2 linked regions of the Homo sapiens genome follow. The protein of the gene in region 1 purifies or fractionates together with the protein of each later gene. This does not show direct contact. Each region holds a gene or a part of one and is shown on either strand. Other genes may lie near its edges.

Region 1 (3,076 bases):
CACCCATACCAGATGGCTTGCAGTTCCCCAAATATGCTATATTATTAACTTACGTGCCATGCTGTTGCCACAGTCTAAAACATACTCCCTGCCCCGTCTCCACTCGGCTAATTCCTACTCAAATTTCAAATACTAGCCCAAGGGTCCTCATCGTTTTCTCTTACATCACTCACATCCTCACCACCTAAAGCCTGGATTAGGTATCCTCCTCTTTGTTTCCACAGTACCATATACAAACACCTATCATGCTTATCAAGTCTGCTTACCTGTTGGTCTCTCCCACCAGACTTGAAGCTCCTTGATGGCAGAGACTGTATTTCATTTACTTATCCTCAATGTTTAATAAAGTGCATAGCACCTAGAAGTTATCTATGTCTTTTGAATAAAGTTCCCAAAGGGACACTTCTGCCTTTTCAGCATTCTACCTGTACTACTATCCCTTCCCATTTCCCAAATGGCAGATTCTACCTTCCACTCTTCTGCCTCCAGCTGCCCCTGGGTTTACCCGTCCTCCACTCAGTGCAGAAGAAGCTGCCCTGCGTCGGGCCCTGGAACACACGGATGGTGACCACAGTTCTCTGATCCAGGTGTATGAAGCCTTTATACAAAGTGAGTTCTGCATCCTTTTATAGAATCCCAGATTTTCCAAAGAGGGGAAATTTTATGCAGCCAGCTGACAGATCTCTATGCTCAGAAAGAGGAGGCCCTTTGGCTAAGGGTTGGGTTATTTCAGGGGTCTCAAGGACTTTAGTTTAGCTGGTCCCTTTCCTCTCCTAGGTGGAGCAGATGAGGCTTGGTGCCAGGCTCGAGGTCTGAATTGGGCAGCATTGTGCCAAGCCCATAAACTTCGGGGAGAACTCCTAGAACTCATGCAACGAATTGAACTTCCCTTGTCCCTACCAGCCTTTGGCTCTGAGCAGAATCGCAGAGACCTTCAGAAAGCACTGGTGTCAGGATACTTTCTCAAGGTTAGAGGAAAGGGTGGGGGTGAGGGTGATCAAAGGAGCAAAAGGCAAAGAGAACAAATATTGGTAAGCCACTTTGAAATCAGGGTCCAGGTGGCCATTCAAAAGATTCTTTAGAACCAGAAAGGACTTTTCCCTTGAGGATTTGAGGTACAAGGGGCTATGGTAAATGCCATGAGGTATAGTAGAGACCAGACAACACCTAGAGGTAATGCTTTACTTTTCATGCTCTCATCACCCTTACTCTTTCTCAATCCCCTTTTATTTTTTTCTACTGCCTGCCTCTTCCCTTTTATTTATTCCGTCAATATTTCTGCCTTTCAATAAGGTGGCCAGAGACACAGACGGGACTGGAAATTACCTTCTCCTAACCCATAAGCATGTGGCCCAGCTCTCCTCATACTGCTGCTACCGAAGCCGCAGAGCTCCTGCCAGACCCCCACCATGGGTGCTCTACCACAATTTCACCATATCCAAAGACAACTGCCTTTCCATTGTTTCTGAGATTCAACCACAGATGTGAGTTCCCTGACATCCCTCCTATACTGCCTATTCCTCTCCCTGGGGCCAAAATTATGGCTGGGGAGTTAGAGAGACAGAGGAAGGGATCTTAGTGGTTAGTAAAAACATGATCTGAGGAGACAGGATTTGTGGAAGGGCTGGTGAGAAGTTTAAAAGTCTGCATTATAAGAGAAGATGCACTTTTGGAGACCTAGGCAGGAGGAGTCCTTGAGGCTAGGAGTTTGAAACCACCCTGTAGTCCCAGCTACTTGGGAGATTGAGGTGGGAGGATTACTTGAGTCTAAGGCTAAGGATTACGGGAGTCTAAGGCTACAGTGAGTTATGATCATGCCACTGAACTCCAGCCCAGGTAACAGAGCGAGACCCTGTCTCTAAAAAGAGAGAGACAGAGAGAGAGAAGATGCAGATCATCTAATTATGACTCTCTCTATTAGGCTGGTGGAATTGGCCCCTCCATACTTCCTGAGTAACTTGCCTCCCAGTGAGAGCAGAGACCTTCTGAACCAGCTAAGGGAAGGAATGGCAGATTCTACAGCAGGGAGCAAATCATCCTCAGCCCAGGAGTTCAGAGATCCCTGTGTCCTGCAGTGACCTGCCTGCCTATGGAATGGAGCTGGGTTCATCTCATCACATTAGATTATCCCTCAGGGTGACACCAAAGCACCCAGACAGATTTAGAAGCCCAAAGTTTAGGGTCAAATGTAAACCCTGGAACCTGAGTCCCAAGAAATGGTAGACTGGGAATGGAAAGAATGGGGTAAACCACAGTCTACATAGGGAAGGACTCTTTCCTTAGCCTTCTCTTATTGATTGGAGAGGGACTGACATGCTCCTCATTCTCTTAACTTTGCCAAACCCATTCTTGTACTCCCTTGTGATCTATAAAAGATTTTTCTATGATGCCAAGTTTTAGTTTGGTCCTGCAGTGCCATATACAACATCCATAAATCAGTGATGATATTACAGTAAATAACCAGGGCCAGCTCCTCCAACTATATAGTCTCTAGCCTCTTCCCATCTCCAATCAGGCCTTCATGCTATGATCGACATAGTTGTCACTAGCACAGACATGAGTTGTCTGGCTACAGTTGGTCTCTAGCCTGGCCTCTCTTCCCTCTGTCACAGTGCACCAGCCTCCAGGGGACAAAGGATGGGGGTGCTAGAGGAATCAGACAAATTCTTCCCTTTCTTCCTCATACAGCTTAAATCCAATTCCTTTTTAAACCTTAAGGCTAATGCAACCATCCCCTAACTAGACTTTCTATTAACAAGCTTCCCAGCAGCCCAGACACACCCACAAGGGGAAGTCTTTCTAACAACTTCAGAGACATCATGCTTTCCTTTCTTTCTTCCTAGGTTCTCCTTCCTTCCCTTCCCCTTTTGTGCCCTCGGAATTTTTTTTTTTTTTTTTTTTTAGACGGAGTCTCGCTCTGTCACCCAGGCTGGAGTGCAGCGGTGCAATCTCAGCTCACTGCAACCTCCACCTCCCGGGTTCAAGCGATCCTCCTGCCTCAGCCTCCTGAGTAACTGGGACTACAGGCATGTGCCACCATGCCTGGCTAATTTTTGTATTTTTAGTCAAGACAGGG
Region 2 (3,576 bases), on another chromosome or scaffold:
TGCAGAGACAGGATTTCTGAGGAACAACGCTGTGTCTGGAGGCACTGAGCCCCTCAGACCCAAGCTGTGCCCCTCCAGGGCCATAGGAGGTTGGGTCCCCTTGGCCACACCAACTCCTGCGATGCTTCCAGAGCTACTGAGAACCCCCCAGGCCTTCTCTTTCCCTACCTGCTTTCATCTCTCATATAAGATACTGATTCAGGACACCTCTCCCTTTTCATTATAGTGCATTTTCAACTTGAGGGCCCAGACCCAGGCTCAAGGCAACTGGCAAAGCATGGGACTTTGCTGGAAAACCTTCTTGGTCCGAGCTCTGCAGCACCATTCCCTTAAGAGACGCCGGAAGCCACGGCACACCCGTGACTTGTTGAGACAGTCGAGATACTGAGAACCCCTCTTTTTTGCATATAGATACTAGGCCTCCATCTCGCAAATATTCTGGAGACTAATTTACCTTATTGATATGAAAGTTATTCACGGCCTGCCAGACAAGCTCACACCACCTTCTCTATGGGAGTGTGTCCGCAACCCCACCCAGCTTTCCGTCTGTATAAATATGAATACCTTCCTGAGCCTTCTCCCACACGCAGTAACCTGTTCCATGTAAGTGTGCTACCCCTTACACAGTCACACACACAGAGTGACACAGACACAAAAGGCAGCTTTACTTTCATGTGGCTCAGAAAAAAAAAGATACAAACACAAAGAGGGAAGGGTGGCAAGTGGGAAATTGGGGCAAAAGCTAAGCAGGAATTCTATCTTCTTTGCAACTTTTCTGTAAATTTTAAATTTACTTCCTAGTTAAAAATTACCAAATTAACTTACAAGTCAGGTCCCCACCTCCAAGGGAGGGAAAAAGAATACTGCGAGTTCCTGAAATGCTGACCTGTGCCCTCCCTGACCTCTGTCCTATCCACATACTGTCATGGGCCTGCTGGTGACACTCCACCCTGCCCTGCCTTCCCCCTGGGCCAGGTGCCATGCTATTCGTGTGCATTTGCCTCAGTGTGACTGACACAGAGGTTCCTGCTTGTCAGGTACCAGGTCCTGTGCCTGAGACACAGAGAAGACTCCAGAGCAGAAGCAGCTGGGCCTACTGGAGAACGCCAGGCCTGGGCAGGAGACAGGCATCCTGTGCACACTGGCCACAGGCACTGGGGCTGGGGGTCGCAGAGCACATGGAAGCCTTACCTGGCCCACAGGAAGTGTGTTGGGGTGTGGGAAGAGTGGAGCATTCAGCCTCATGACCTTTGCTTAATCCCCACTCTACGCCACACTCACAGGCCAGGCCAGTCTTCCCTCCGAGCCCTGAACGGTATCACACTGAGTGAGGACAGTCCTTCCTGCACAGAGGTGACACCTGCTCCACCAGCTGCACTGACTCCTCCTAAGGCCCGGGAGGCTACCTTGAGCCACCACCCACAGGGGCTGTGGGCACTTCTCATGCTCTCCTCCCAGGAGGTGGTGATGCACTTACGGAAGGCAACTAAATCAGCTCATGGACTCAAGGACACACCCAAGGACGAGGTGGGAGTCCTTTGGGAACAGGCCAGCCCTGGGACGGTGGTGATGACAGGCGAGCATGGAATGTGCCCCTTAAATAAGACCCAACGTGCAAAGGTCTGTGCTTCCCAGCAGCAATGAGGTGATGGTTCTTAGCATAAAGATGCTTTACTTCCGAAGGGACTTGCTTCATGGTTCCATTAAAGAGTGGGCCCCACCTGGCTGGCCATGCAGCGCCAGCTGTGGGTACATACCTAGGCGCTGGGCAAGGCCAGTAGAGGTCGTGTCGGAAGTGTCTCCAAGGAGGGAGGTAGACACGGGGATGGAGTCCTAAAAGAAAAGCAAAGGGCACACTGCAGCTTCTCCACCCCCCGCAGGCCAGCCACACTTCTGGCTTCCGGGCTTCTGATTCTTCACGACGATGGCAGTGGCAGGTTCAGAGAGGACAGGCACAGGTGCCGAGGGAAAGAGGGGTGGCGTCCGTCAACAACCAAGTAGGTGGACCCCATGTCGCATATGAGGTCAGCGGAGTTGGGAAAGATGAAGCTGGAACCACAGTGCTACTAAGTTCTAGGACCAGTTTCACACGAAAGGCTCGTTTTAGTGTCTCAAACTCCAAAGCATGCTGAAGGGCAACACCACAACCAAAAGGGAAGCAAACAAGATCATTAAGGCTACAGCAAGAAGAAAGTGACTCACAGTCGGGGCACCTGTGCACTGGTGCCTCGTGCCCCACAGCAGCTGGCTCAGAGGCAGGATGCCTAATCTCCTCATCTCAGCCTGTGAGGGAGCATGCTGCTCCAGCCCCTGTGGGCTCCTCAGGGTCAGCGAGTGCCTTGTGACTTTGATACAAAGGGCACCAGCCACCAGCATCTAAATAGGGAAAATAACTTCTGAACATGCTTGGCCAACCTCATTTCAGACAAGAAGCAGTAAGGTGAAACAAGCAGTACAAATGATTCTCAGATCAACAAATGGGCCCTCCGGCGATGTGGGAGTAACTGCTCCCAACTACTTTGGGAGTAATCTCTCACCATTAACAATGTCTAGCTAGTCCCAGAATCCCAGCACTTTGGGAGCCTGTGGAGGGAGGACTGCTTGAGACCAGGAGTTTGAGACCAGCCTGGACAATGAAGTAAGATCTGTCTCTACATTTTTATTAAAAATAATAATAAAAAAATAAAGTAAGAAGGTCTAGCTTCCAAAGGGGGAAAAAAAAAACACTTATTGGTAATATGGCCAAAATTGCTTTTATCAAAATAGCAGATTTCTAGGAGAAGCAGCCTGGCTACAGAGGTCTGAGAATCTTGGAAAGTGGCAAGGTTTTTAGAGGTACAGAGACTTTGGGGTTTGGTTCCCCTGCCACCCCAACTGTCCTGGTGGGGACAAGTTAACTGAACAAACAGCTACTGTGTGCCAGACAGTATGGCAGGGCAGAGACCACAGGCGCTGCTCATCTCCTAAAGGTTCAAAGCCACTTCCACAAAAGACAATAAAAGGCAGGAGATCAAAAAACACAGGAGAAGAATGAAAGCATTTACTGTATGCTTCTTCACTAAAAACGATACAAAAATATCTTAATGAGCCTGCTGTTTACAGATTCCTCAAGTTCAACATTTAGCTGCATGGTAATAGTATGTACAGTTAAACCTTCTAGAAAAAAGAAAATCTACCTTACCCAGGGTGGCCTTTTTCTACCAAAAGTTAAATGTAAAGCCCCATCGTGTCACCCTTAATAGTTCATTACTTCCGACATCACACTAGGACTGTGGTCTCCCAGCAGATGCCCAGGGAGTTCTGCTGCAGCTGAAGCACCACCTTCCACTCCTAGAGGCCGGGCGGGGGGTCCAAGAATCCCTGAGCAGGCACGGGCCCAGGTCCCAGGCCAGCTTCCCTCAAGCTGGTAGGACTCAGTGTCACTAGTCCTGCAGCCTCTCTGGGCACCAAAAATCCCTGCTCAACCCAAGGTCAGCCAGCTCCGGGTTGCATGGTGTCTGTTCTCTACAGTCTCACATGTGGGAGTTTAGGGAAGCTGGAGGGAAGAGACCTCACAGACCGTCTGGTGCCATTCTC

What was found.
Region 2: the proteins of DQX1 (region 1) and PSMG4 purify together in Homo sapiens (affinity purification with mass spectrometry; 2 studies listed by BioGRID and IntAct, with this or other methods). This does not show direct contact.

The regions. Positions count from the first base shown.
Region 1 is NC_000002.12:74,517,448-74,520,523, reverse strand, and holds the end of DQX1 (ATP-dependent RNA helicase homolog DQX1), read left to right. Parts: intron 1-489; coding exon 490-609; intron 610-777; coding exon 778-968; intron 969-1,293; coding exon 1,294-1,484; intron 1,485-1,921; coding exon 1,922-2,078; 3' UTR 2,079-2,393; downstream 2,394-3,076. UniProt on the Homo sapiens protein: Might be involved in RNA metabolism; it is missing helicase motif III and may not have helicase activity.
Region 2 is NC_000006.12:3,261,941-3,265,516, reverse strand, and holds part of PSMG4 (proteasome assembly chaperone 4), read right to left. Parts: intron 1,834-3,576; coding exon 1,758-1,833; coding exon of another isoform or gene 1,693-1,757; exon of another isoform or gene 1,344-1,692; coding exon of another isoform or gene 1,192-1,343; exon of another isoform or gene 1-1,191. UniProt on the Homo sapiens protein: Chaperone protein which promotes assembly of the 20S proteasome.